Regions from separate parts of the Homo sapiens genome. Here region 2 is linked to region 1. Evidence: fine-mapped QTL for protein levels in blood plasma. Region 1 holds a variant in brackets. A gene starts in the other region. All regions are shown on their reverse strands.

Region 1 (15,440 bases):
TGGGAGAATTGCTTGAACCCAGGAGGCAGAGGTTGCAGTGAGCCGAGATCGTGCCATTGTACTCCAGCCTGGTTGACAGAGCGAGACTCCGTCTCAAAAAAAAAAAAAAAAAAAAAAACAACCAAACCGAAACAAAAAGGATGTTTTTATTTTAAGTTTTTATTTCACAGAATGATGTCTCTAGAAAGGGTAGCTTGAGGCCTGGAGTGGTGGCTCATGCCTGTAATCCCAGCACTTTGGGAGACTGAGGTGGCGGATCACTTGAGCTCAGGAGTTTGAGACCAATCCGCGCAACGTGGTGAAACCTCATCTCTGCTCAAAATACAAAAATCAACCGGTGTGGTGGCATGGGCCTGTGGTCCCAGCTACTTGGGAGGCTGAGGTGGGAGGATTGCTTGAGCCAGGAGGTAGAGGTTGCAGTGAGTTGAGATTGTGCCACTGCACTCCAGCCGGGGTGACAGAGCAAGACTCTGTCTCAAAAAAAAAAAAAAAAAGTAGCTTGAAATCGTGTTCTGGAAAGCTGCTTGCTGAGCTGCTCAGGTTGAAGACCCAGAGTGTTCCTTTTAGTTCCATTTAGCCCCGTCGCGTGGAGTGTGCGCAGCTTGAATAATGCTTTTTGGCTTCCAGAGTGCTATTCCCTTGAGTCCCTGATTCAACCTGTGGCCCATCAGTGGGCAGAGGTGATTTTCTGCAGGGTACCAAGGGCACTCTTGAAGGCAGGAGCTCAGGGACTGCTGAGAAGTAGAAGAGCCGCTTCTCTGAGTTTCTTTTCAGGAACTCATGATGTCCTGGGAACATTCTTGGTTCTTGGCCTGAGTGTTCACTTGGGTTCCACAGGTGTGGCTTGTGGCTTTGGCTGTTGACATAGAGGCCTGTGCTCAGAGCCGCGGTGAGTGAGCACAGACAGAGGGTGGGTGGCTACCAGGTACAGATCTGTAGTTTATGGATCCATAGTTTATACTGCTGCAGTGGTCATATGTCCTGCCTTTGTGTGGCGGTTGTGATTTCAGATATGCTGCCTATTTGTCCCCAAAAGTCATAAAAAAAATCATTCAGCAATCATGTCATATTGCCTGTTTCCTCTTTTCCTGAAATTGACAAATACTGTTTTAGATTATATCTCAAATTTTTGGTTACAAAACATCTAATTGAAAATATACACTTTCAGCTAGGCATGGTGGCTCATGCCTGTGATCCCAACACTTTGGGAGGCTGAGGTGGGAAGATTGCTTGAGCCCAGGAGTTCATGACCAGCCTGGCAAGGCAAGACTCTGTCTCTACAAAAAAATACATTAAAAAATTAGCCAGCCTGGCCAACATGGTGAAACCCCGTCTCTACTAAAAATGCAAAAACATTTGCTGGGTGTGGTGGCGGGCGCCTGTAATCCTAGCTAATTTGGAGGCTGAGACAGGAGAATCACTTGAACCCAGCAGGCGGAGGTTGCAGTGAGCCGAGACTGCGCCATTGCACTCCAGCCTGGTCAATGAAACTCTGTCTCAAAAAAAAAAAAAAGAAAAAGGAAAAGAAAAATTAGCCAGGGGTGGTGGTGTGTGTGCCTGTGGTCCCTGTTACCTGAGAGGCTGAGACAGGAGAATCGCTTGAACCTGGGAGGCGGAGGTTGCAGTGAGCTGAGATCATGCCACTGCACTCCAGCCTGGTGACAGAGCGAGACGCTGTCTCAGGGGGAAAAAAAGGAAAAAAAAGACAGGCTCTCACTCTGTCATCCAGTCTGGAGTGCAGTGGTGTGAGCAGGGCTCACCACGGCCTCGACCTCCCAGGCTCAGGTGATCCTCCCACCTCAGCTGAAACTGCGCCATTGCACTCCAGCCTAGGCAATAAGAACGAAACTCTATCTCAAAAAAAAAAAAAAAGAAAGAAAAAAAAAATGGAAAAGAAAAGAAAAATCAGCCAGGGGTGGTGGTGTGTGCCTCTGGTCCCAGCTGCCTGAGAGGCTGAGGCAGGAAGATCTCTTGAGCCCAGGAGTTTGAGAGCAGCCTGGGCAACATAGCAAAACCATGCCTCTACAAAGAAAAAACCATTAGCTAGTAGTAGAGACAGAACTGGTTTTTGTGGCAGAGGCTAGGGAAGGATGGGGGCAGATCTCTGAGGGGAGGAGTGGCCTGCGGGTGTCCTTACTACCCGTTTTGCCTCTCTTGGGGCAGCTGTGTCATTTCCTCTCTGCCGGTCTTCTTGGCCAACAAGCGTTTCTCCCTCTTCCCTGTTCTCCCCACTTCCCCACTTCATCCCCCTTCATCCCCCCTTCCTCGCCCCTCCACAGACCCAGGGCATTTGGTGGACACTTTTGCTTGCAGTTAGGTCAAGTGGAGGTGAGTTTCCCATGGGGCAGGGGCTTGACAGCAGGGGTGGCCGTCCAGACTCTCCAGAAGGGACGTGGGGCTGCTGTTGTGACTGGACCTGCCCCACATCTTTGGGCCTGAGCTGTGCCCGGTCACAGCGTCCTGAGTTCCTTTGTGTTGCCTCTGCCCCGTGGATCTAGGTCTTGGGGGAGGGCTGGTTTCATCCTGGGGCTACCACCACCTGGCAGCAGCCCCACAGCCAAGGGCAGGCACAGCCAAAATACATCTGCCTGAGTGGCCACAGAGCAGGGCCAGGCTCTCCTGGCCCAGTGGTTTGGAGGACAGAGGGCCTGGCCCGAGGGGAGGCACTTGCTCAGCCTGCGGCTCCCACGCCAAAGGCAGGGCGGCCTCTGGGTCTGTCTGGGGCCGAGCCTTATTTCTGGAAGCACATGGATCCTCCTTCCTTGCCACTCAGTCTAAATGTTTAGGTTACAAACATTCTGAGTGAGAAATTTCAGTCAGAGCTTGTAATGTGTAGGACGTGACATTAGGGAGTGAAGAGCTTTCCTCTTCACTGATTCAAGATAGCCAGTGCCGGGTGAGGGGAGCGGGACACTTGCTTCTTCAGAAGAGTGGATCCAAAAGTTGACCTCTTCCCCAGACTGAGTCAGCATGGGAAGAGAATTGTGCTTTCACAAAAGCAGAGATGCTTTTCTGTAGCTTTCACTGTTTCTTCTTTGCTCTGGAAAATGGAGGACGAAGGAGTTCTCAGGTCCTCAGTCACTGGAGTAAAGTGACATGCACGTCCCAGCGTGAGTGCCTGAATGGGTCTCTCAGGTCTGAACAGAACAGCCCTGTGGCTGCCGCGAGCTGGTGCAGGAGGAAGTACAGAGGAGGGTCCGGTTCAGAGTGGCGTGAGACCAGGGTTAGATGACTGTTGCCAGTTTAGGGCCAGTGAGAGATTTTTAATGGTAAATATGTAACCTCTTTTAAAAAAAAACAAAAACAAACAAAAAACACAACTTTTTCTTTTTTGAGAGAGTCTTGCTCTGTTGCCCAGGCTGGAGTGTAGCGGTGTGATCACAGCTTACTGCAGCCTCAACCTCCCAGGCTCAAGCGATCCTCCCACCTCAGCCTGCTGAGTAGCTGGAATTACTGGCGTGCACCACCATGCCCGGCTAATTTTTCTATATATATATATATATATATATATATATATATATATATATATTTTTTTTTTTTTTTTTTTTTTAATTTATTTATTATTATTTTTTTTTGTAGAGTTTTGCCGTGTTGCCCAGGCAGGTCTCAACCTCCTGGGCTCAAGTGATATAGCTGCCTTGGCCTCCCAAAGTGTTGAAATTATAGGCGTGAGCTACTGCGCCCAACGAATATGTAATCTTTTTAAAAAAAGGGAAAAGGTTGGGCGCGGTGGCTCACACCTGTAATCCCAGCACTTTGGGAGACCGAGATGGGTGGATCACGAGGTCAGGAGTTCAAGACCAGCCTGGCCAACATGGTGAAACCCCGTCTCTACTAAAAATACAAAAATTAGGCTGGGCGTGGTGGCTCATGCCTGTAATCCCAGCACTTTGGGAGGCTGAGGTGGGCAGATCACAAGGTCAGGAGATCGAGACCATCCTGGCTAACACGTTGAAACCCCGTCTCTACTAAAAAAAATACAAAAAATTAGCCGGGCGTGGTGGCGGGCGCCTGTAGTCCCAGCTACTTGGGAGGCTGAGGCAGGAGAATGGTGTGAACCTGGGAGGCAGAGCTTGCAGTGAGCCGAGATCGTGCCACTGCACTCCAGACTGGGAGAGAGAGTGAGACTCCATCTCAAAAACAAAAAAAAACAAAACCCAGAAATTAGCTGGGCGTGGTGGCGGGTGCCTGTAATCCCAGCTACTTGGGAGGCTGAGGCAGGAGAATCGCTTGAACCCGGAAGGTGGTTTTATTGTTTTGAGGCATGGCCCTGGGGGCTTGTGGCAAGGGCTGAGGTGTTTGGGGAGCAGCAGTGCAGGAAAGGCCTTACTCAGCTGGGCTTGCAGGTATGCTCACTCCTGTCTGAGCGCTGCTTCCTTGTTTCTAGCCTCCGTTTAGAATAAAAAAAAAATGTATAGTACAGTATTCCAATTCATCAAAAGGAATAAAGACAGATCAGCCTGTCTGGTCTACCACCATTCAGCCTAAGCATAAGGCAGAACCCTGTGAAGTGGCCTGTGTCCTCCTTCTCTCCCTGTCCCCTTCCTGGAGCCCCATGGGCCTGTGCTCAGCACGCGTCCTGGCGCCGCGGTGTACCTGGTAGTGGGCAGTATCGGACGTGTTCTCCATGTTGGTGAGCGATGTACATGCTGTAGCTTTATTATTCTCATCTATAAATAGGGCCATTCATGCCCTCATAAAGTTGTTAAATAAGAGTGATGTGTATGTAAATACCTGGCCCCATGCTGGCAGGGAGTGGAGCTTTAGTACTATTTTACTTCTTACCTAATAGGTGTGAGTGTGGAAATGGGCAAATAGTCAAGTTGGCAGGGAAGCAGAGCCTCCTGCCTGCCCCAGTGCCACCTGAACTCCTGTAGTGTTCTTATGCCACTGGAACTGGCTGGCAGGGGCCAGCTCTGACCTCAGAGAATTGTGGGCTCACTCTAGGGCAGGAGGAGATCGCAGAGGGCGGAACGGTGGCTCATACAGCCATGCCCCCAGGTGGCCCAGGACCCACCTGGGAGCTACCTCCAATGGCTTTGAGCGGTCAGTGTGTGGACAAGCGGAGGGACCGTGTCTCAAGAATATGTGGAACTCAGCGGGGCATGGTGGCTGACGCCCGTAATCCCAGCACTTTGGGAGGCAGGCAGATCACCTGAGGTCAGGAGTTTGAGATGAGCCTGGCCAACATGGTGAAACCCCATCTCTACTAAAAATACAAAAATTAGCCCAGTGTGGTGGCAGGTACCTGTAGTCCCAGCTACTTGGGAGGCTGAGGCATGAGAATTGCTTGAACCCGGGAGGCAGAGGTTGTGGTGAGCCAAGATCATTCCACTGCACTCCAGCCTGGGGGATAGAGTCAGACTCTGTCTCCAAAAAAAAGACATGGAACTTAAACACAAGGCTAAACTTCTGGGCTGGAAGGAATCGAGGGATGGCCGACTCAAGATACCTGCAGCCCTGCATGAAGCTGTCTGCCAGGAGGCTCTACCTAAAAGCAGTTTTGTTTTGTTTTGTTTTGTTTTTTGAGACGGAGTTTTACTCTTGTTGCCCAGACTGGAGTGCAATGGCACGATCTCAATTCATTGCAACCTCCACCTCCCAGGTTCAAGCGATTCTCATGCCTCAGCCTCCTGAGTAGCTGGGATTACACGTGCGTGCCACCACACCTGAGTAATTTTGTATTTTTAGTAGAGACAGGGTTTCACCATGTTGGCCAGGCTGGTCTTGAACTCTTGACCTCAGGTGATCCGCCCACCTCAGCCTCCCAAAGTGTTGGGATTACAGGCATGAGTCACCGTGCCAGGCCTAAAAGCACTTTTTCTTTTTCTTTTTCTATTTTTTTTTTTTTTTTTTTTTGAGATGGAGTCTTGCTCTGTCACCCAGGCTGAATGCAGTGGCAATCTCAGCTCACTGCAACCTCTGCTTCCTAGGTTCAAGCGATTCTCCCACCTCAGCCTCCCGAGTAGCTGGGATTACAGGCGTGCACCACCACACCTGGCTAATTTTTGTATGTTTAGTAAAGATGGGGTTTCACCATGTTGGCCAGGCTGGTGTTGAACTTCTCACCTCAGGTGATCTGCCCACCTTGACCTCCCAAAGTGCTGGGATTACAGACACTAAGTCACCACGTCTGGCCTAAAGCACTTTTTCTGAATTCCACCCCAGTCTGCCCTTCCTGAGTGCCTGGGCAGGGCCCTTGGGGAGCTGCTGGTGGGGCTCTGAATGTGCCAGGGGTATCCGGGACATCTTGCAGGCTAGTGGGACTGCCAAAAACGATTCTCAAAGATGAGTGGGGAGTTGGGCAGGGATAGGAGAATCTGGTGTGTAGAGAAATAGCCTGAAGGCACTTTGTGCTTGCCTGGCCTCTCTGCCCAGACGTTGGGGAGGCTGATGCCTGCCTGTGGTTTCTTGTACTAGCCGTTAAGACCCCAGCCATCTTCCTTGAGGGGCTTCTGCCAGCCCCCAGGGAATGAGAATTAGCCAAGAGCCAGGAAATGAGAATTAGCTGAGGACACCTTTTACCCCTGTTCCGCAGCTACCTTCTGTTCCCTGGCACAGGGCATCCCCTTAGAAGTAGTGCATGAAATTCACACAGCTGGGACCTGGCAGAGAATACAGGTGGCTTGACTGAGGCAGGGAGGCCTCCATCTGCAGGTGGCCTGAGAGCCTGCAGAGCCTCACAGTGGCACTAGGTGGCACTCCCACCCAAGGGAGTCCTAACAGAGTGGGAGGCGTGGAAATAAAGGACTCCATGGCCTGAAGGAAATAAATACAAGGTAGGAAAGTAAATTTCCAGACAATTTTTTTTCCCTAATGGAAATTCACTTGTAAGTGATTGTTCAAAATCCAGAGGCATTTCCCCACTGAAAATATGTGTGGTGGAGGTCTGGTTGGAAGGTGGGGTAGTGCTAATCTCGGCCAACTTGTGGGCTGGTTTATGGGTTTCGTTTGTTTGTTTGTTTGTTTGTTTGTTTTTTGAGACGAGTCT[C/T]GCTCTGTCGCCCAGGCTGGAGTGCTATGGTACGATCTCGGCTCACTGCAACCTCCACCTCCTGGGTTCACGCCATTCTCCTGCCTCAGCCTCCTGAGTAGCTGGGACTACAGGCGCCCGCCACCATGCCTGGCTAATTGTTTGTATTTTTAGTAGAGATGGAGTTTCACCGTGTTAGCCAGGATGGTCTCGATCTCCTGACCTCGTGATCCGCCTGCCTCGGCCTCCCAAAGTGCTGGGATTACAGGCATGAGCCACCGCGCCTGGTGGTTTACGGGTTTTTAAACACCCATCTGCCTTAGAGGCTTAGAATGGCTAAAAAGCAATGCCAGTGGATGCAGTGCAGCCGAGCTGGCCATTCCACAGGGAAGAGTGTGAGAATCCCAGAGATCTCTCAGCACATGGGAGGTAGAATGTGTGCAGAAGCTGGTCTTTCCTCTACAGACCTTTCTCCCCTGGTCTAACTGGGGCTTGGTTTTGTTCCGTCCCCAGGGACCTGTGTGGGCTGGTCTGTAAGTACTAGAGGCTTTGAGGAGGCCAGGATGGTCTTCCAGGGTCTTTCCAGTTCTGGAAGTTGGTGGTGGCAGGATTCTGCGTCAACATCTTTCTGTGCTTTAATTGCATTTTATCCCATGTCATGTGTTTCCTTGGACCTCTGAGGTGAGAAGGGGTCTGAAGTTTCTTTGGGGCTCTGAGAATGCTGGGATCAGTTACAGTAAGTTCTCAATCTTGATGATAGGTTCTTGGGATCTTCACCTTTAAGCAAAACATAGAATGAAACCAGTTTTACCATAGGCTGATTGATAGAAGCAAGAATTAAGTTCCTATGGATGTTTCTGACCACAAAAACATCACCGAACTTTTAAAGACCCCAAACATTTCTAATATTAACCATTGAAATGTGAGCTATACATGCATTTATGAATGATTAATAAAAAGTTAGATAATTATTTACCTAATTACTCCATTTCAGGGTTGCAGGTGGTCCCCTATCCGATGGGCAGCTCAGGGCACAAGGCGGAAACCAGTCCTGGATGGGATGTCTTCCCATGGCAGGGTGCACCCACACCCACACTCACTCAGACTGGGACCATTTAGACACACCAGTGAGCCTAATGTGCATGGCTTTGGGATGTGGAGGAAACTAGGGTACTCAGAGAACACCCATGCAGACATGGGGAGAACGTGCACACTCCACACAGACAGTAGCCCTGGCTGGAATAGATTTTTTTTCTCATCAGTGTTATGATGACACTATTTGAGGACCTCCCGTAGTGATGTCTGGACAGGAGAATATTAGGAGCAGCTTTGTATAAGGTATCTGCCACCCCTGTACCACATGCTGAGGCCCTTAGGGGTGGCACTGTGCCTTGTTCACCCCTGCCTCCCTGTTCCCATGGGTGCATTGTAGGTATGGAAGAACATGGAAATCCATGGAGGAGGACCCTATCTGTCTTCTTCCCCCTGCCGCATCCCAGGGCTGTGGCTTGTCATGTGGCACTTGCTTGGGCTGGATCCAGGTAAGGACGACAGGTGTATGGGGCTGTGACTGTACACCCTTATGTCCTATTCCAGGCGTGGCCCCCACACCATTTCTCCGCAAGCCCTACAGACCCTCTCCTCCTGTTCCAAACCTTAATTCTTTCTTTCTTTTTGGTTTAAAAAAAGAGGTCTCACTATGTTGTCCAGGCTGGTCTCAAACTCCTGAGCTTAAGTGATCCTCCCACCTTGGCCTCCCAAAGTGCTAGGATCACAGGCATGAGCCTTCATGCCTTAGTTGCTTTAGAAACAAAGATCTCAGTGGTGAGAAGCCGCTGGAATTGTATCCTGTTCAGTGGCTCAGAATGAGGAGACTGAGACTTCTAGGGCCAACTCACCATTGAATAGGGAATGGGCGTGCTCAGTTGCTCCCACAGATGTGAACAAGGCTACTTAATGCCACACCTTTTCTTTGGTTGAATGGTGATCCCTCTCAGACCCTTCCCCTCCCCTAAAAGCATTAAGCTGATTGGTCTGATCCCATGTGGGCTGAGTGCTTGTCGGATGCCTGGCACCATGTGGGTACGGGGTGGACTGCCAAGCCGCAGACTAGGGCCCTCCGATCTAGCGGGGTGGGAAGACAGCATGCATCATCCATCCCATGGGCTCTGCATCCTAGTAGTGAAGCAGGGAGGCCTGTGTGCTCTAGGCTGGGGCGGTCGGACCTTGTTTCTGGCTGCCCTTGTTCGCTGGTCTACATCAGTTTTGGAGTCAGGGCATTCTGTTTGTCAGGGTTTTGCGTGCCTGGAGGGCAGAAGGTTGGGGTGGGAGCAGCCTTGTAGCTTCAAGATGGGATGCGGGAAGGATCAAGGATTTCGCATTCTCTGGAGCTTCCTAGGGCTAGCAGGGGTGGCTTTCTGTTCAGTCCAGTGAAGAAGCTGGTCCTCAGTGAGGTCAGCAGCACGTGGGGTCCTGAGTCTGCCTAGTGTTGGGTCGCGGGTGGTGGAGGGGAGGCAGCTGCTTTGGGAGGCCAGCCACGGGCTGCAGACAGGCGGCTCACAGACCAGCGGACAGACTGAGGACAGACAGGAGGCATCCCTTGGGAGCAGCCGGGCCCACCTTGCTGGTTGAGTGGGGTCCTCCCGTGACAGTGACCAAGCAGAGCTGGTGTCTGCTGCCCTTCCCCTTCTCCCTGGCCTTGGCCCTTCCTCTTAAAGGGGCCCTCGGGTTGGGCGGACGGCCCAGCAGGACTGGGGCTCAGAGGGGGCGGCAGCTTTAAGGGTGGCTGGGGTCGGCCTCCTGCCCCCGCCCCTGGTAGTCTGAGTGGCTGGAGCCCGAGCCCCGCCCACTCGCCCCAAGGCTTCCCGGCTCCGGGAGCGCCCCTAGGGAGTCGGAGCCCGGAAGCTGGAGCCACCTGCGGGTGAGTGAGCGGAGCCGGCGCCCCGGCCCTGCCGGGAGCCCCAGGTGACTTCTCAGGGAGGCGCCCCACCCTGCCCGCTCAGAGGGCCAGTGCCGGGTGGGGGTGCCCTTCTAGGGCCTTCGGTCGCAGGTGGGCTCTCCCAGCTGTGACGACGCGGCCCCGGCCTGAGGAGCCCCGCGGACAAGGTTGAGCGAGTCGTGGGCTTTTTTTCCGTCCCCACGTGGGCACGGCCCGGGCTGCGTGAGCTCACTTCCTCCACATCTTATCTCCTGCCGGGCGCGGGTACGGGAAGTGAAGAGCGTACGGGAAGTGAGGCGGCCGCGGGAAGTGAGGGGGTGCCTGCAGTGAGGCGGCTGCAGGAAGTGAGGGGGTGCCGGCTGGCATTGGCGGGGCCCGGGCTGAGAGCTCCGTCTCCTTGGTGCTGCCGGAGGGCCTGGGGGCAGGCCGCCTGGGGAAGAGGGCGGCGCCCGAGGGCCAGGGAGCGGGTGGCCGGCTTACTGCCTTTGCCCAGAGCCGGTTCCCCTCAGCACCCAGAGTTGTCTGAGAGGAGGTTCCCTGTCTTTGGGCGGCTAGGATAGACCCCTGCGAGTCCTGCCTGCCCTCTTCCCAGGGCCTCCTGGGCTGCCTGCCACTGACTCTGGTCCATGTCGCCCAGGGAGGACCATTTTCCCCGTCTCCTACTTGGGAAGTTTGCCTGCTTCTAGCTCAGGAATGCAGGGAAGGCAGGGTTGTCGCCCCACTAGACGCACGCCGCTGCATGGTGGCCAGGCCTCAGCTGAGCTGGGGAGAAAGTCAGCCCCTTGCCCCCACCCTCGCCCCCGGGGGAAGTGCATGGCCCGCAGTCAGGCCACTGGACACAGGATTTGGGGCCCTGGAAGTTTCTGCTGAGGCTTCAAGAGGGGTGGTCCTGGCGTTCCAGGCGCTTCCCATCAGACAGCAGGAGCCAGTTCTCAGGGTCCTTGGCTGAACACACAAGCTGCAAAGCTACATATACTCCGGCAGAGCTGGCTGCGGGCTGCAGACTGCAGGTGACAGTGCCATATCCCTCACTGCCTGCTCCGCCTTGCTAAGGCTTGAACCAGAATCCACTAGGAGCAGGACTGTAAGTGTATACACGCATACCCCTACACACACACACCCCTGCACCTACACACACCCTCATGCACACACCCCCTACCTACACACACCCCCTCACCTACACACACCCCTTGCACCTACACACCCATACACGCACGCGCCCCCTACAGGCACACACCCCCTCACCTACACACACCCTCGCACCTACATACACACCCCTATATGCGCCCACCCTCACACCTACGCACATGCCTCCTACATGCACACACCTTGCACCTGTGCACACCCCCTCCAGGCACATAACCTCACACCTACGCACACACCACCTATACGCATAACACACTCACACCTACACACCCCCTACACACACCCTCACACCTACACACCCCACACATCCTCGCACCTATACACGCACCCCTCCATGCACATACCCTTGCACCTGCACACGTATCCTCCATGCACACACACTTCCACCTACATGCACCTACCCCTCACGCACAACAATCTTGCAGGCCCCAACCCAACCTGTAGTAACTGCTGCCTGGCCTGGGGTCATTCATCGACTTCAGTTGGAATGTTCCATTCCACTGGGGGGGCAGGTGTTGTGGTCTTTACCCTGGTTGGTGAGGGACGGGTGGGGACACTGCCTTACTGCTCTGGTATGGATCCCCAAAACAGCATGTCCTGACAAAGGTGTTCCCCTACCCCCTATACGGTCCTATCAGCCATTGTTTCCTATTCACAGGGCCGGTCACTCCGCGCAAGTTTGGGTTCCTGTTTTAGAACTGCCACCTAAGCCCCTCTTATTTCATCTTTCCTGTGGTGGAAACCCCTGCCCCCACCGGAGTGTGAGGTTGACTTTTTGGAAAGAGAGGTGAGGTGTTGGAAGCCAGGTCTGAGGCTGCGTCGCGCTCCTAGGTGGAAGTGGGGTTTCTGAGCAGTTGTTCTGGGCCATGGTTGCAGCTGTGCTCTGAGCCTCAAGGGGGTGGCCAGGAGGAATTTCCTTTCCCATTTTCCAGATGTACAAACCAAGACTTAGAGACTACCTGTGACTTGCCAATGCCTTTCCCTGCTCTCAGGGCAGAGGTAGAGGAAGGCAGCCAGGATTGCAGTGACCAGGTTGTCATCAGCCACAAAGCCCTCTGAGTTCTCATGTTGCAGGTGACTGGCCCTTAGGCCATGTAGTGACATTAAAGTCCTATTGGTCACAACCCTAAACTCCTCTCCACAGAATGTCTTTGAGGCTTAGAAGGGAGGGAAGGTGTCAGTGCTTCCTCCATTCTGGATACCCTTCTTGCAAGCTCCTCATCCAGGGCCTGAGGCTCCCACCTCGTGTCACCTCAAGACAGCCAGAGAGGATGAAATCTTTGGCTTGGGCTTCCAGGGCTGTCATAGGCAGAGGGCAAGCCAGGATTTGAAATAGGGAGGCCAGAAACACTGCTGGCCAAGGAAGTGGCTTGGCCTTGGGAAGCAAGAAGGCAGCAACCTCTAGGCGCCCCTTCTCTCCATCCTGCAGCTCTGAGAGGGACAGACGGTGCTCAGCCTGTGTCCTGGGGCAAAGCTGGATTCATTTTCCTCCCTGGCGATCTTCTGGGGCCCACAGCTGGTGATATGGAGGCACTGACACCCTGGTCTCGGCGCTTGTTTTAGAAGAGGCAGAACAGTGATAAAGACAAGGATCTAAATGGGCAAGGACGCCCTGCCCTCACTGGGCTCACTGGCAGGTGCGGTGCCCCAGCCTGGCCTCTCAGGATGGTTCTTAGTCTCTCCAGGGCTCACCTTTCCCTGATGGGCATCTGACCTGGCCCCTGGCCTCATGTGCCTTGATTCCTCAGTAGGGCCCCCTCTGAGACCGGAGGCCAGACCCAGCCCCTCACAGCACCATGGGAGAATGAAATGCCAAGGCTCACAGGGGAACCTGCTTTGAGAACCCAAGGTTTTTGGCCGAGCTGGGTTTATCTGGGTTCATGTCTTTCTAATACATTCAGGGCTGTGGTCGTCACTGTCCCACATGGTAGGTCAGTGAGGAAAACTGGCAGGAGGCTGGGGCTCCCCAAGGCCCCTCCTCTCTGCCTCCCCTCAAGGCCACGCTTGCCTCCCTCTGAATCCTGGCTGTGAGCTCAGTTCCAAGCCTGCACTCTATAGACCAGGGAAAGAGCTTCCCCTTTGGAACCAGGCACCAGGCTCACCCCTGACTGCTATCACCCCTGTTTCCTGGGCAGATGGCAGGAGGCCAGCATGGAGCCTGGTGGGCCAGGGAGGGTGGGGCGTTTGCTCAGTATGTTGGCGGAGTGGTTGGAGTGACATGGCCCTGGAGGCCTGGACACTGGGGCTGTCTATGGGCCTGGGCCTCGGCCTTGAGATGCAATGGGCCTCTTGTGCCTGTGCCAATCTCCTGGTGCCGGCACCTTCCCAAGGGAGGATGCTGGTGTGTATCTGTTTGCTGGTGGGTAGGCGCCCTCCTGCCTGACCCATCTGCAGTGAGCTGTCCCCGTCACTCATTTAGGAGAGGGGCCTGGACCAGCCCCAGCCTGGATCGGGGGAGAAATCCACGCTTGTGTCTGACCTTAGTCACCTTATTGTCCTGGCTCCAAGAGGCCACTGAATCTCATACCCGGGGCTTCGGTGATTCTTGCAGGCAGGTTCCCGGGCGGAATCTTCACCTGTGTGGCTGAGGAGGGTTTGCCAGGGCGTCAGATGTTCAACCACGCGCGACCACAGCGATGTCTGAGTTAGGCCTCATGGCGGGCTGGCCATGCCTGGCCTATTCTTTGCTTTAGATGGCAGCTCTTGGGGCCACATTTCATCATCTAAGGATGGTGACAGGTGCCTGCCCCTTCCTGGGCAGTGGCTGGGGGTGAAGGACTGGAGGGGTGGGCTCCCTGTCAGCCCATATCCTGGAGGGCCTTGATTGCCTGGGCTGAGATAGCACAGCTTCAGCATGTTTGCTCTTCCTTCCGCTATCTGTGCAGGCCAAGGTGGAGAGGCTTTGTAGGGGCCGGGTGTGTCCTCCCAGATAGCCAGGCTGGGGCCCTGGCCAAAGTGCTTTTCTGAAGCAACGATGGAAAAAGGGGAGTGGAACTGGTTTGTGCTGCAGTCCTGGCCTGTTCCCAGCCCCAGGCTGGTTTTCCCCACATGCACAGCTTCTGAGGAGGCCTGGAGCAGGGAGCTGGGTATTTTGTGTGTGTGTTGGTGGGGGGTCAAGGCCAGGAGGGGTGAGGAGAGAGCCAGAGCAGGTAAGATGCCAGGTTCTCACCAGGGCACCTCTCGTGGCTTCCCGCTCATCTCATTCCTCAGATGCTACTTTGTAACCTGAATTGAAAATGGGTCAGGTCCTGGCAAGGGAGGGGCCAAACTGCAGACCGGCTGACGCGGTGCTGGGCCTGGGCCTGGAGCACGGGGCTCAAGTTCCCACTTTGTGCGTTTGGAGCCAAGTGGGGCCTGAAAGCCCTGGCAGCAGTGGCTGGTCCCCTCCCTGTCATGGCTTACTGGACCGGGCAGCCCTAGGGCCTTGCCCCCTACTGCCTCCCCAGGCCAGCTGAGGAAGAGGATGAGCAGTGCAGGCTGGCTCAGCCCTGGGTAGCAGGGACAGAGCAGGTGGCCAGGACTGGGGACAGTGGGCTTTAGTGCAGGGGCTTTTGCACTGGACTGCAAGCCCTGAGCAGGTGACCTGAGCAGGTGTGTGACCAGTGCCTGTCTGTCTGCAATAGCCCTGACCCTCTATTCTGCACCCTGTGAGCCACCGAGACTGAACCAAACCCAGGAAGCGGCGCCACCAACCAGCCTCGCAGAGGCAGAGGCCCTGGAGCAGTGACAGCACAGGAGATCTGCTGGCTCGGGGGAAGGGGAGGAAAGAGGAAAACAAAGGGAGTGATCGAGTGAGCCTCGCCCCGCCCTCCCTGCGCCGGCCCATGATGTGTCAGTCAGAGGCGCGGCAAGGACCAGAGCTCCGCGCGGCGAAATGGTGAGATGCTGCCCACCGCGCCCTAACCCCACGGTTCCCCGCCACGACCTCCGGAAGGTCAGAGTTCACATCCAGCGGCCTCGCAGTAGAGGTGGCGGCAAGGGGACTGGTGGTCAGCCCCCGAGGCTGGAGGAGCCTGGCCTGGGGGGCCTGAGCACCCTGAGTCGGAGAGCCCGCTTCAGGTATCTTTGGTTCCAACCATGAGGAGGGCCCAGCAGGGGGAGGCTGCCAGCGAGCCTCAGACCTCATGCCTGCGATCTTCCCTACCCTGGTGCTCCCAGGCCCCCTGCTCGCAGCCCAGACCCTTGCCTCTGCACCCCACCTAGGAGAGAGGCTTCCCCATTCCCCTTCCTGCCCATGGGAGGGGTGTAGCTCTTCCCAGTTGGTCCCTGCTCTTCTGCAGTGAGTGGGGCAGGTGGCAAAGCCAGAGGGGAGCAGTGATTTGTCTTTGCTTGGCCCCTGCCACCTTCCTGGACCTTTTAAAAATACACCGGGGTGCGATGGGAGAG
Region 2 (15,440 bases), not on the chromosome of region 1:
TATTATCATCTGAAGTAAAGAGCTCACATTAAGATTCACTTTTGGTGTTGTACATTCCATGGGTATTAACAAATATATCATTAAATCTGTCCATTATTATAGGATCATATAGAATAGTGTTCACTGCCCTAAACATCCTCTGTGCTCTGCCTATTCATGCCTCCTCTGCCTGATCCCTGATGGCCACTGATCTTTTTGCTGCCTCCGTAGTTTTTATCTTTTCCAAAATGTCACATTGTTGGAATCATACAGTATGTAGCCTTTCAGATTTGCCTTCTTTTACTTAGTAATATGCATGTAAGTTTCCTTCATGTTATTTCATGGCTTGATAGCTTTTTTCTTTTTACTGAGTTCTTTTTATTTTTTTGAGACAGTCTAACTCTGTCACCCAGGCTAGAGTGCAGTGGCACAGTAGTTCCCTGCAACCTTGACCTCCTGGGCTCAAGCAATCCTCCTGCCTTAGCTTCTCAAGCAGCTAGGACCACAGGTGTGTGCCATCGTGCCTAACTATTTAAAACATTTTTGGGGGCTGGGTATGGTGGCTCACACCTGTAATCCCAAGACTTTGACAGGCAGAGGCGGGTGGATCACTTGAGGTCAGCAGTTCCAGACCAGCCTGCGCAACATGGTGAAACCCTGTCTCTCCTAAAAATAAAAAAATTAGCCGGGTATGGTGGCATATGTCTGTACTCTCAGCTACATGAGAGGCTGAGGCACCAGAGTCATTTGAGCCTGGGAGGCAGAGGCTGCAGTGAGCCAAGATCTCACCATTGCACTCCAGCATGTGTGACAGAGTGAGACTCCATCTGAAAAAAAGCCAAAACAAAACAAACCAAAAAAACCCTAAAAACAATTTTATTTTTTTGGTAGACATGAAGGGGGGCAGTGGGGTGGGTTTCGCTATTTTGCTCAGGCTGGTCTAGAACTCCGGGCCTCAAGTGATCCTCTTGCCTAGGCTTTCCAAAACGCTGAGATTACAGGTGTGAGCCACCATGCCTGGCCTGTTTTTTTTTTCTTTCTAGAGGTGAGTAATAGTCTATTGTGTGGATGTACCATAGTTTATCCTGTAATCCACTGAAGACATCTTGGTTTCTTCCCAGTTTGGGCCATTATAAATAAAGCTGCTTTAAACATCTGTGGTCTTTTAAATATTTCATCTTCTTTTCTAGTAAGTTCACTCATTTTCTTTAAACATGTTTTTTACTTCACTTTTAAAATTTGTGTTTCTAAGGCTAAGCTGCCTAACTGTATTTGTGGCGATCTAATATATTTGTCTTGTTCTTGTTCTTACGGTGTGTCTTAGGGTGAGTTCTCTAGGAAACAGATTAGGAGATAAGAGATTTCCAGCCTCTCAGAAACAAGGAGCTGACTGAAGCTGAATTGGGCATAGAGAGAAGTTAAACCATGGTGCAGTCAAAACAGACGCCTCAGCCAACTAGATGGGGAACTATGAAGTTGGAGAAGACCTTCAGAGTTCCCTTGAATTGAGGCAAGGAGCCCAACCTTTTTTCTTCCACACTAATCAGTCTTTGGATGTGTTCTGTCCCCAGGGAAGTTGTGTAATCTTTTGCAAGGCACATACCTTTGGTGGAGGGCAATTTCCTGGGGGGAACTAAATTGTGAGTTTTTAGCAGTCAAAACTCATGGAAACTGGGGATATAAGTTCCTTGGTTCTGAAAAGAGAATGGTAGGTGGTACTTCATAATGTTCACTGCAGCTTGATAATGGATTATTTTAGTTTACATCATTTTTAAGCCATAATTTTCCAATTAAATTTTAGTTTTTTTCAAAGACTTTCTAATTACCTTCTTTTTTTCCTTTAGAGTAAATAATAAATAAATACTTTCTTCACCATGTCACTGAGTATGTTCATGTTCTCTTTATCCATTTCTATCTACTGCTTGGAACTCATTCAATTTTTTCTTGAAAACATTCCCCTAGTTGTCTATCAATTTATCTTAGACCAGTTGCTTTCTAAGCCTCTTGTATCTCCCTCTTTTCTCTTTCACCTCTTAAGAGGTGTATTCGTTTTTTATTGCTATCATAACAAATTACTACACATTTAGTGGCTAAAATCAACACCCACTCATTATGTTGCAGTTCTGTAAATCAGAAGTCTAGGTACAGTGTGGCTCAACTGAGTCTTCCACTTAGGGTCTTACAAGGCCTACCAAGGTGTCAACAGGGCTGAGCTTCTTTCAGGAGGCTTTGCGGGGTGAATCTACTTCCAGCTTATTCAGGTTGTTGACAGAATTCAGTTCCGTACTTTTGTAGAATTGAGGTCCTCAATTTCTTGCTGGCTGTTGGCTGGGGTCATCTCAACTTTTAGAAGCAGCCTTCATTCTTTTGACTCATGATCTCATTTCATTTCAGCCTATAATTGTGGATTGAGTTCTTATACTTGGTTTATTTATTTACCTACTTATTTATTTGAGCCAGAGTCTCACTCTGTTGCCCATGCTGGAGAGTGCAATGGCGCAATCTTGGCTCACTGCAACCTCCATCTCCCGGGTTCAAGCAATTCTCCCGCCTCAGCCTCCTGAGCAGGTGGGACTACAGGCATGTGCCACCATGCCTGGCTAATTTTTGGATTTTTAGTAGAGACAGGGTTTCGTGTTGGCCAGGCTGGTTTCAAACTCCTGACCTCAGGTGATCCACCTGCCTCGGCCTCTCAAGGTGATGGGATTACAGGCATGAGTTATCATGCCCGGCCAGAGTTCTTATACTTTAAATCTCTCTAACCTCTCCTGCTTCATTTTTTCTGCCTCTAAGTGGAAGAAGTTCTCTGATTTTTAGGACTCACATGATTAGACTGAGCCCACTGGATAATCCAGGATAAACTCCCTATTTTAAGGTTAATAACCTTAATTACACTTACAAAGTTCCTTTTTCCATGCAGTGTAACATTAACAAATTTCAAGGATTAGGACATGGACATCTTCGATGGGTCATTCTATCTGCCACACTCTTGTATTTTACATCTATCTTATTTTTGGATTTCATTCTTACTTTTCTGGAGTACATATTTCAGAAAGAGTATATGATAATTGAACTTTCTGAAATCTTTATTATGTACTCATAATTGAGTTTTGTTCTGACAGGAAATAGAATTCTAAGTTCAAAATAATTTTCACTTACAATTTTGAAGGTATTATCTTTCGGTATCTAAAGTTTCTGATGAGAAATCTGATACTAGCTCAATTCTTAAATTCTTTTATAAAAGGTCAGATTCTTGTGACTGGAAGCTTTTAGGCCTTTTTCTTTATTTTTGATGCTCTGAAATGGCTTCTTTATGTGTCTAGGTGTGGTTCTTTTACTATTATTTTGCTCAGTACTAAATGTGTTCTATCAATTTGGAGACCTGTATTTATCTTCAGTTCCTCGAAGTATCTTTTCAATGTGTGATATTTTTCTCCTCCTCCTCTTGTTCTCTCTTTCAGAAATTCTTATTAGTCAAATAATGAATTAGTCCTCCATTTTTTTCTCAAAATTCTCCATGTTTTTGTTTGAATACTGCAAGTTTTGTGATATTTTTTCAATTAAATCATCTTGCCAGTTTAATTTTTACATTCATGTTTATTTTCAACAGTCTTTTCTTATTCTCCAATGCTCCTTTTTCAGAGTATTCTGTTCTCTAATATTTTCTTGAGTACTTCTTAGGCAGCTTATTATTATTAATTTCTTATTATTTTATTTTGGTTCCTTAGCTGACTCAGAGTCTTCCTGAAATGGTTTTTAGTTTTATCTTTCATGCTGTTGATTTTCATATCTCTGATGGTTTTTCATTCTTCATTCATTTTAAAGACTCAGGCCACGTGCCGTAGCTCACGTTTGTAATCCCAGCACTTCAGGAGGCCAAGGCGCAAGGTGGGAGGTTGCTTGAGCCCAGGAGGTTGAGGTTGCAGTGAGCTATGATCTAAGGCCATGTCATTGCCCTCCAGCCTGGGCAACAGAGAGAACCCCCGTCTCTAAAAAAAGGAAAAAAAAAAGAGTGGAGTTCTAGATAGATGTAAAGAGACAAAACACTGGGGAGAGGAATCTGGAGGAACTGAAGTACAGTGGTTTCCTAAAGAGGTTTTAAATTGACATTTTGTTTTTAGCCCCCTTCTCATTTCCACCTTCTACTGTACAAGGGAACTCTATTCCTGGAGTCTCTCTGGGACTTTGCTAGGTAGATCAACTCTCTGTGAAACATAAGTCATCTCTGGAAAATTATAGGATGCCACTTCAGTGATCTGTTTCATTTGTCAACAAGTTTCCATATTTCTTTTGATCTTTCCAATAATTTTTTAAATACCTAGTCTGCTGATGGTCCCTCTCCAGGTCACTTCAGCTTTAGAAATTAATTTATTGGCTAGGCATGGGAGCTAATTCCTGTAATCTCAACACTCTGGGAGCCTGAGGCTGGAGGGTCACTTGAGACCAGGAGTTCTAGACCAGCCTGGGCAACACAGCAACACAGTGTAAAATTTAAAAAAAATTAGCTGAGCATGGTGGCATGCTTCTGTAGTCCTAACTTTTCAGGAGCTGAGGCGGGAGGATCCTTTGAGCCCAGGAGTTTGAGGTTACAGTGAGTTATGCCACTGCACTCCAGCGTGGGTGATAGAGGAACTCTTGATTTATTAAGGCTTTAGGAGGCAGACTAAACAAATATTTATGTCACTACCTTTTCAAAGCAGACATTTTTATTTACATTTGGCTGTCTCTGGAATTTCTGGTCTGATTACCATTGTACCAAATACATTTTAGTGTCCCATACAGCAATTTTTGTATTATTATTCTTTTTCACAGTTTAGTAAGTTATTTTTATAGAATTGTTGTTGAGATGGTCTTTGGAATACCTTTGTTCAATTCAAGAAAAATATGAGAATTTTGATTGCATCAAATTTAGGTTTAAAATATAATTAGTGTAACCACCTGTCTTATCTTTAGTAATAGATGATTAGACCCCAAGTTTCAGCAGAGCAGTTTTCCATCTAGAGATTTCTTGCCTCAACCTCCCGTGAAGCAAGAAGTGGTTGTCACTAGTTCTCACTAATTAAATATAATAAAAGTGATGCGTGTAAATTCCCTGTCACTCTCTTAAAAGGACACCCTATTGAAAACCTTTTAAAATCTGTTTGCCCAAATTATTTGCTTATAAAACGCACTCTGAGACCAAAAGCATCTCACAAAATCCTAGTGTTTCAGGAATGAGGTTTGAGAAACACTGGTGTTTAAGTATTCTGCCGATCATATTTAAAAAAGTATTTTCTAAACCCACTTTATATCCTAATAGAAAAGGTGTTACCTATTATTCAGTGCCTTTTTGACACTGAGATGATTTCCTTAACCTAACATTATAATTATTTAACACAGATTTATATTTTGAATTATCTTTGCACTTAACAAAAAAAAACTCAATTTAGTTATAGAGAAATGTTCCTTTAAGACAGTATCAAACTGACTTTGCTAACATCTAGGAATTTTGCACTTAAGTTCACAAATGAACATCAAACATGAGTCAGGCACTGGGGATACAATGGTGAGAAACATGCATAGCCTTCATCATCACTGAGCTTACACTGAGTGACTTTAAATGTTCTTTTAGGATGTGAAAGATTATGGCAGCTTCAAAAATTAAGCTAAGAAGCTCTCCATCATTTTCTATGACTTGAGTTTAAAGCACAAGATTTAGCTCTTATGATTTTTAATCATAAATCTGAGTGGGCTGGAGGCTTTTTATTTGTGAGTACAGAACTTTGGCATCTTTGTTCCAGTCCTGTCTGTAGTTATTGACTTAATTCAGTTTTCCACCTTTTTTGAGTTATGTTTTCCTTGAAAAGTGACTATTTCATTTTCTATTAATATTTATTGGCGGTATAAAATTGTATAAAATATTTTAATAATTTTTAAACCTCCCTTTTATTAAATTACCAACCTTACTAGTGGCACTATTCCTTTTCTTGTTACACTTCCTATAAGTCTTTGAATTTCACTGGTATTGCCAAAAACCAGCTTTATACTAGATTATGAGTACTTTATCAATTTTACCAATTTCCTTTTAAAACACTGTTCTCAAACTTTATCTTTACTAATTTCCTCTTCCTAATTTCAATTATACAATTTGTTCTTCGTTTCTAACATCTTCAAATAAATGCTTGGCCTATTTTTATTCTTTCTTATTTAAAATAATGTTCTCCTATAACTTGGTCTGTATCTTAAAATTTTAACATATAGTTTTTTTCAATATCATTATGTTCTAGTAACTACAATTTCTCTTTCCTTTTAGACTCAAAGGTGATTTATAAAGGTACTTTAAAATTTAAAATACGAACAAAATAAAAGTTCCACTTTTGTTTTTTAGGGGTGCTATCCCTTAGCTAATTTTTAGCTTATTCTATCATACTATCTTTCCTTGTGCAAATTTAGCCCATCCTTCTAGGTCTAACGTTTATGTCACCTCCTTTAAGAAGCATATCTTGTGTTCTCTCCCTTCTCTAAAATTTTATATACATCCCTTAAACATATAATGTTTATATATTCTCCGCCTTCAACTCCCATCCTCAGGCTATTTTATTCACGTTTATGAGATTTGCTGTTTAGCTCAGTATTTTGTGGATTTTCAAAAGATTCCACTCAATTTACCGAGCACCTACGCACCAGACATTTTATTAGGTACAAGGAAAAGCGTTAAATAGATATAATCACGGCCTCCAAGAAATTGAACCTAGTAAGAGACACGAATAAGCAGACATTCAAGTGAGCTTTAGGAGACTTGGTTTGGTAGTGAAGACAGTCTCATGTGTGTTAACAGCTTACAGCACTGAAAAATAAGAGACAGAAGGGAACAAATCCGTTTCAAACAGTTCAAAGGAGGAAAGAGAGGGAAAGGTGGTTTAGATACAGCTAAATCATAAATAGCCTGATAATCTAACCCTGTGATAATCCAAGTACAGCCACAGCACCTGCCTCAGAATCACTTGGAAGGCTTGTGAGGAGTAAAAACGCAGATTCATACCTACTGAAATTAGAATGGAGAAACGGACATTTAAGTCTGCATTTTAAACACATTCCCCAGGTACTGAGGCCATTCCAAGTTTTAGAACAGAGCACAGCCAATTTTCGCAGACCTTGTTCCTCAAGTACTCCCTCCTTCTAGCCGGAGGGTGGCCTGCAGCATGTCCCTTCCCTTCCCACCGCCGAAGCTGTCCATCCAGTTTCTGAATGGCGGCCCACAGACCGCACGGCTTTACGAGAGAGGAACACAGCGCCCACCCGCCAAACAGCCACACAGGGATCGGAGGCCGGACCCGCAAAGGATTCGGGGAAAAACGCATCGAGCCAATCCGAAGGGCGAGAGCGGCCCTAGATTGGGGGGGCGGGGGGGCGTTAGGAGGTGGGCGGGGCACAGAAAAAAAATTTTTTTTTCCTTGATTGACGTAAAACCTACCCAATGAAAATAGAACTGGTAAAGCTTCCGCCCCCTAATAGGCAGAACCATAGCGACATTTCAACCAATCCAGCTCAAAAGTGTCTATGTTGTGGGAGGTCCCTGAGGCCGCTGAGGTCGTTCGTGTCTGTTGAACGGCTGTGGGCGTCTTGCTGCCTTGGGTAGGGGGTTAAAATCGTTCTTGAGAGGAACGTCTCTGTGCGAAGAGATAATGAGTTTAGCTCTGAGGTCGGTAATAAGGAGGCGGCAGTGCTCTCCACACCCCGGAGCGGGGCCCAGGGAGGGTGTGTGTGGAAGGGAGGACGTTTGGGGCCGAGGCGAGGCAGGGGATGTAGTTTGGGACGCGGGAAAGGAGCCTAGGGCAGCCTGCCCGGATCACTCACCCTCTGGGCTCTGATGCCCTGCAGGGAACGAGACCAGTGCATTTCTGCTAAGGAGGTTATTTCTGTCAGCGCGTAGGGCTTTGGACTGCCAGAAGGTTGGGCTTAGTTGCGAGCGAGGTGGGAATGAAATATCGCGAGGCTTCTACTCTTGTTTCTCAGATCAGGTCGCGGACATCCCTTCATTCATCCGTGTGCCTGGTCAGGGCCCCACCTCGGCTGCTCCGCTGCTAATGCAATCACCCACCTATAAATTTTGGAAATAACAAAAACTCTTTCCTCTTCTCCCAGGGCCCTGCTTTACGGTGTAATTGGAGACCCATTTTAGTGACTTTAATTGGCAGTCTGTCTCTTGGATTTCCTAAATTTCTTGCATTTTTTTACCTTTCAGTTCTAACCTCTAACCCTCTGTTGCCCTCTCCCACTATGTAGACGTTGTACCGTAAAACTATCCATACACTTACGACACTCCGAAAATATTCCATGTTCTGCTAAGGGATAATCATGGTACCCTTGGATGGGGTCAGGGGTGGGTCGGTTCTGGACTTGGCCTCCAAAAGTCTCAGGAAGGAAAAGACTGACCCCAGGAATACCCAAGTTTGTGTCAAGTCAGGTCTCATGAAAGGAAGATCTTCCTCAGCTTTGTTATACTGCACCTACTAGTCACTTCCTAGCTTTTTTTTTTTTTTTTTGGAGCTTTCAGAGACCAAAACGACTTTCAAATGCAACTAGATAGGTGTTTTAAGTACAGTCAACTGGTTTGACATGTTAATGTGTTACCGGATTGTGTTTCAAAACTCGTTATTCCAGTGTTGCGGCTCCATTTGAAAATTTGGAGCACATTTAGATGGGCAGCTCTTAAGGAAAACATTTCTGGCTTTAAAATAATTTTTGCTTTTTTTCTTTAAGCGTTTCCAGAGTTTATGAGAAGTTAACCTCCGGTTTACATGTTAAATGAGACAAGACTCATCACATTTTTATATAGAATGAAGCACAAACATTGTATATTGGCATCTAATATTTGTCATATGTTTAGACTCATTAATATTTTCGATGGTTTGTTAATATCAATGGAGGAAATGACACATAAATTGCCAAACTGTTAAAAACGTGTAATCTAAAAACATTTTGAACCAACAGTGCTAAAATACTGTATAAGTTAATTCACTTTTTTTTTGTAATTTTATGAACATAATTATCAGAACTATCAACAGTAAACCGATATATAGTGATTGTCAGTTATGAATTTTGGTTTCATTTGGAGATTTTTTTTAAATTCTTTAACATTCTTGTAGGATAACGTGTTTTTGTTTTTTTGGTTGGAGTTGGTTGGAGTTTCAGACATAAAAGTAGTGTTGCTTATTCACAGTTCTTGTTTCTTCCACAGTAACATTAGTGGGAATAAATAAAAAGCTGGGAAAAAGAAAAGTTTGGTCCTCATTTCTTTTAATAATCTGTAACACTCTTTAGTTTTGCGAAGTTCAGATTTATAGCAATTTAGACTATGGAATAAACAGGTCATTGACTCATAAAGGGAAAGTTTCCCTATCTTTCTCCAAAGTACTTTCTTTTTTGAAATTTAGAAGGTAATTATTGGCTAATTTCTGTTAGTAAAGAGAATTAAAGTGGACTAAGGGCTTTTTCTTTCCATTTCATAGAAGTGAGCTTGTAGTGGACAAAACAAAGAGGAAAAAAAGAAGAGAACTGTCTGAGGAACAGAAACAAGAAATTAAAGATGCTTTTGAACTATTTGATACAGACAAAGATGAAGCAATAGATTATCATGAATTAAAGGTAATGGTATACTTTAAAATATTTGTTTCTGTGTTAAAATGATTTGCATTTTTACAGTTGCTTTACATTACATTTCTAAATAATTATTTTAACTAAATTGGTTTTGGAACTATGAAGGCATTTTAAGCATTCATAGTTAGATGCTGTAATAAAACTGAAGAGAACTCCTAACATAGTTTTTAGAAAATCTTTTTCACATGAGAAAACGAATAGTATTTTAAATGTAAAAATACATTCCCAGGGAAGGTGCTTATTTTTCACTGTCATAATTAAAGGATTTCAAACTGGAATTTATTCTTACCATCTTCTTTTCACTGTTTTTTGTTTTTGTTTTTGTTTCTTGGTGACTCATACTGTTTTCAGACTGTGGGAGTGTTGTCTTTTAATCTTATAATTTGGATTTGTTAGTAACATAGTCTCAATCCACTTTCTCTGGTGCAAACAACTTTAGTGCTGTTTGATGTTGACACATGCTAATAGGTAAAAATGTCAGCTTTAAGACCTAGAATGTCAAAGTGTAGGGAGAGATTTGTAAATTATTATTTGTCAGGGTATAAGGAGAGATTTGGGTTTAGGGTAGAATGGGACTTACTTTCAGCACAGTGGGAAAGATAGTATTTTGAGATTTTTAATGGCCTTAATGGATAGGTGAATGTAAGTGTTTATTTGGTAGTTTTAATTTTTGTAATTTCGTAAGGGATTTTTAAGCATTAGAATTCCAAGTAGGGATAGGAACTATGCAGTGACAGGATAGAATGTATAAAAGCAGTTAATAGGCCTGCTAAGTCTAGCTTTCTCAATCTTGCAGTCCTCTTTGGCTCTCTTTTCCCACTGTTTTTTTTGTTTTTTTTTTTTTTTGGTTACCCAGATTTGATCTTCCTTTATAATGTCTGTTCCATTTGTAACCATTGACTATCTTGGTTTGGGACCTTATTTCATACCTGGAGCTTCCTAAATGATTTCTTACTAGTTCACCTTGTACACTACCACTGAATTTAGATAGTTTAAAAATTCTTTCACCATTGCTCATAAATTGTTCATTGCTCATAAACCATAACTCCTCATTGTATACTACTTAAAGTTCAGATTCCTTTGCTTTCTACTGAATGTTCTCTACACTTTTGCCACCAACTACTTTTTTCATTTGCTAACTGCTTTCTTCCTCCTGAACTCTTCTAATTAAGGTGGAATTCACCTCCTAATTCAGGTGAGCAGTTTACCTCACCTGAACTTTTCTAATTCAGGTGAGGTAAACTGCTCTGTTCATTGTCCTTCGAACCTATTCGTTTCAGTGTTTCTTTTAATACCAGTCATCCTTCCCAAATACCCTACTGCTCCTCTTCATCTATCCTTCAAGGAACAGTTTGAATCTTTCCAAATAAGACTTCTCTAGTCAGTAATATGTCTCCTTCCTTATTATTAGTAACAAAATCTCTTTTTTCTCTAAACTCAGGGTCCTTAGCCCTATCATTTACCTGGTAACTAATCATGGAAAGACTGATGATAATTCTTGTTTTAATGTTTTATCTCTTCTATCATGTAACTGTTTAATATTTATGCCACGCCTTTTTCTCATTTTGATTGTTAATCCCTTCAGAACAAATAACAATCAAATTATCTGTGCAATAAGTTAGTGCATTTTATATAGTAAAATCTGTAAACACTTGTTGGTTACTTTGTCATATAAAAAATGCAATTTATAAATGAAAAAACTTATGCATACTTAATTTCAGTAGTGAAGAACAATTACACTATCACTGCTATTTTAAAGAGGTAAAACATGCAAAAAAGTTATATTTTATTAATGTGTTGTCATCTCTTAAGATGTAAAAACTTAATAATTAGAAATTCTTTTGTAAAGAGTGCTTTATAATTTGCTTTTCCTTTTTAATCCAAAAGGTGGCAATGAGAGCCTTGGGGTTTGATGTAAAAAAAGCTGATGTACTGAAGATTCTTAAAGATTATGACAGAGAAGCCACAGGGAAAATCACCTTTGAAGATTTTAATGAAGTTGGTGTGTATTTTAATAGTCTTTGTAATCAGCAGCTGTTAGGAAATTGTCTGATTAATATCACTTTTTAAATTTTAAATTCTCTAGGTTATGGAATTTTCTTATAGAACACTGGTGTATAATGTGACTCTTACTCAGTTTTGTTTTGTTGGTTTTTTTTTCAAAGAAAAAATATGGCTTTGCTCTGAGATTTATAGTTTTGTCTTTTGTTTTGTTGTGAAGATTCTAACCAAGGAACTATTGTGTAGCTTTTTATAGAAAGATGCTTTTCCAAGTTGTTTGTATTTATATTATGTGATAAAACTTGAAGGGTGATCAAAAAATTATTTTTGCTTAATAAAACAGAAAATTTGATATCCTGCTGTTTGGAAAATGTTTCCCAAGACCTTTCTGGTATGTGATTTTTGTTGGCTAAGTGGGAGAAGAGGGAACTGGTAGTAGTTGGTATCTTTGGCTGTAGATGAAATGCACGACTTCAGGTTGACAAAGTTTATGAGAGGCTACATCCTCTGGATGACCTTGATCTCAGTGGATAAAGTCATCTGTTTAGAGGGTAGTAGTAAAGGAGGCAGTGGGCATACTGGAAGCAGGAGAAAACATCCTAGTACCACCAACTGAAGATAATGTGTCATAGGCTTAATATGGCTAAATTTTTTTATAGTTGATTTTAGTGAATTATTTATAGCATATATAGACCAGGCTTTTTCAAAATAGAAGAGTCCGGAAGGCAAGGATGTTGCTATTATAACTTAAATGTATTGTCTAGAATATTATCTACAAAATATGTAAATATTCAGGTTTATTTCTTTTTTTTTTTTTCTCTAAACCAATGGGTCACGATATAAGCACATCATATAAGTATTTTAAGATATTTTAAAAATTTGGAAACAAATTCTGCTATATACACAAACCCCTTATTTTAAATATTAATCAAGAAGCAATAGGGGAAGCAAAAAGAAATGGCAATTAGTAGACGCAGAGAAAATTTAGATTCATGTCATTAGTCAGTTTTTTAAATCCAAAAGCTCAAGTCATAAGCAGTTGAGATGGAAAATAAATGATGAACCTAAGAGAAAAAAAACACAGCACAGAAGATCCTCAACTTATGAACTAATATATGACTGTTTAGAGAGGCAACTTGTCCATTGGGGACATTTTCCTTTTTTCCTCTAATTTGTAGAATTAATTATTTGAGGAAAGGGAGAGAGCCACCTTTTGTTCTCCCAGAATGGACACTCTCCTGAAGTTTATGATCGTAGTATTCCTAGTTTTACCTTAGATTGTTTATTTGTAGAAACAAGGTGTTTGTATATAGTGGAAATGGTACTATTAGGAAGGAGCTATAATCCAGGTATGTTTAGTACAGTATAGTGGTTTAGCACTTGGAACCAGATTCCCTTGGTTCATACCTTGGTTTTGCCACTTTACAGCTCTGGAACTTGGTCTTTTTAATACCCCATGCCTCATTTTCAACTATAAAGTGGGGATCATTGTATTCTCTCATGAGATTCTTCTAAGGATTAAGTTAATGATATGTGAAGTACCTAGAAAAGGGCCTAGCATGTTGTAAGTGCTACTAAGCATTTGCTATTATTATTACTTTAAAAAATTGTCTTTGTTTCAGGGGCTCGAAATAATCATATATGCATCACTGGGACATAAAATAGACTTTGTGTATATTTTTTATTGACTTTTTTCATAAAGGCTATTGTAAGCACTGTATCATCACTAATAATTTTACAAAATATGTTATTTCACCTTAAATGAACACAATTTAAAAATTGTGATTTTTTTTTTTTTTTTTTTTTTTTTCTTTTGAGACAGAGTCTCGCTCTGTCGCCCAGGCTGGAGTGCAGTGGCGGGATCTCGGCTCACTGCAAGCTCCGCCTCCCGGGTTCACGCCATTCTCCTGCCTCAGCCTCCCAAGTAGCTGGGACTACAGGCGCCCGCCACTACGCCCGGCTAATTTTTTGTATTTTTAGTAGAGACGGGGTTTCACCGTTTTAGCCGGGATGGTCTCGATCTCCTGACCTCGTGATCCGCCCGCCTCGGCCTCCCAAAGTGCTGGGATTACAGGCGTGAGCCACCGCGCCCGGCCAAAAATTGTGATTTTTATTGGCAGTTGGGACCAGAATCCCATGCCACCTCCACTTTTTCCTGACACCCCATCTGTTCTATGTTATTAACAGAGCAGAAATACTGGGTTCCTTCTAGAATAAATAGATGTGGCTAAACTTCAGCTTTGACACTAAAAGATTAACCTTTTGACAGGGTCAACATGTATCTTAGCTATCTTAAGGCTACCTATGGAGAGTACCAGGTGTCAAATAAAAATGTATTACTGTTTGGGAATCATTCAGGAACTATGTATTACCCCTTTTGTTGATTATTTTTAACTAATCACTGACCACAGATTAATATGTTTTATACTTTGGGACAGATGATTCTAAATCATAACATTTGAGTCCTAGTTTTATGAACTACCCAAGGACACTGTTCCACAGATATATCTGGATGAAGTTTGGCAGTTAACTATTATAGACTCTTCCTAGTACTGGAAAAAAGCTTTAAAATATATTTAATTTAAGTTTAGAGTCAAGACAGCCTGAGGCTAGTGAGTAACATAGATATTTTAGGAATTAGTGTCTTTAAGACTAACATAAGTCAAACGTTTGTACACTATTTTTGACATGTACTACTTATTATTGCTGATTGAGATTGTAATACTGTATTATTGTCTTCATTTTGCTTATTTAACACTGAATTTTTTGGTATTAGGTACTGTACTGGGGTTGGGAAGAAGACTTAATTAAAAGTTACTAAAAGGTTCTTCTTTCAGGGAGTTTACAATGTAAATATAGGTGACAACAGGCTATAGTACTATGTGGTAAATTGTAATTTTGTCTAGGACAGAAGTCAGCAACTATAGCCTTTGGACCAAATTCAGCTGCTGCTTGTACACCACCACACCCCTTCTTTTATGCAGCTTTTGTGCTACTATGGCAGAGTGAGTAGTTAGAGACTTTATGGCCCTCTACAAAGCCTAAAATATTTACTATTGGCCTTTTACAGGAAAGATTTGTTAATCCCTGATCTAGAGGAATTGAAGTCTTTGCAGAGGAGATTTTAAATTTAGGCCTTTGGAAATGTGAGTAAGATTTCATTCCAAGATTGCCAGGAAGAGTAGAGAAAAAGCATTCTAGGCTTAGAAAGCAGCAACAACAAAGAATGGTACTAGACGGATAGCATGTTTGGGAAACTAGGTAGTGTTCTGGGCTAGACATAGGGAAATGACTGGAAACATAGGATTGGGCCAGATTGGTAAAGTCTTGCAAAACATGAAGATTTTGAATTCTAGTCAGCAGAGATCATTCACAATTTTTAAGGGAAGGGGATATGATATGTTTGAGAAAGAAAACTGATGAGAGTATTATTGATGATGAGTTGGAAGGAAGAGAGACTGCAGACAGAAAATACTATTTTTTTCGCTGAGGATGGCGAGGGTGAAAAGAAAATACATTTAAGAATAAAAAAGAGGCTGGGCTTGGTGGCTCATGCCTGTAATCCCAGCACTTTGGGAGGTCAAGGCGGGAGGATTGCTCGCTCACAGGAGTTTGAGACCAGCTGGGGCAACAAAGTGAGATCCTGTCTCTACAAAAAAATTTTAAAAAATTAGCCAGACATGATGGCACATGCCTGTAGTCCCAGCTACTTTGGAGGTTGAGGTGGGAAGATTGCTTGAGCCCAGGAGTTGAGGCTGCAGTAAGCTGGGATCACGCCATTGCACTCCAGCCTGGGCAACAGAGCGAGACCTTGTTTTAAA

Alleles and levels. Alleles are on the strand shown, and positions count from the first base shown. The strength of an association depends on the size of the effect and on how common the allele is.
With allele T in place of C in region 1, the plasma level of the protein whose gene starts at base 7,549 in region 2 is lower (weak association).

The links. A credible set is the group of variants that fine-mapping cannot tell apart. PIP is the posterior inclusion probability: the model's chance that the variant is causal. Protein levels are from antibody-based Olink assays in UK Biobank. Linkage for the fine-mapping came from a reference panel and not from the study's own genotypes, which makes the PIPs less certain.
Region 2: CETN3 starts here. The variant in region 1 is the best candidate, but not a certain one, in a credible set for the plasma level of the CETN3 protein (UK Biobank, PIP 0.70).

The regions. Positions count from the first base shown.
Region 1 is chr22:31,625,254-31,640,693 of GRCh38, reverse strand. The region is part of intron 3 of PISD (phosphatidylserine decarboxylase); the gene reads left to right. Among named protein-coding and RNA genes, the nearest start is that of MIR7109, 11 kb to the right of the region's middle. RefSeq lists enhancers at 1,818-1,897, 8,626-9,313, 9,460-9,619, 10,037-10,331, 13,456-14,008 and 2 more and silencers at 6,540-6,589, 9,690-10,109. The variant C/T (reference allele first, on the strand shown) is at 6,992.
Region 2 is chr5:90,401,865-90,417,304 of GRCh38, reverse strand. CETN3 (centrin 3) reads left to right here and starts at 7,549. Exons shown (of 5, transcript NM_004365.4): 1 at 7,549-7,660; 2 at 9,471-9,606; 3 at 11,506-11,620. The coding sequence starts at 7,644. It overlaps LOC731157 (a long non-coding RNA gene), which reads right to left and starts at 7,305. Exons shown (of 2, transcript NR_105024.1): 1 at 7,001-7,305; 2 at 6,636-6,805. RefSeq lists an enhancer at 7,580-7,779.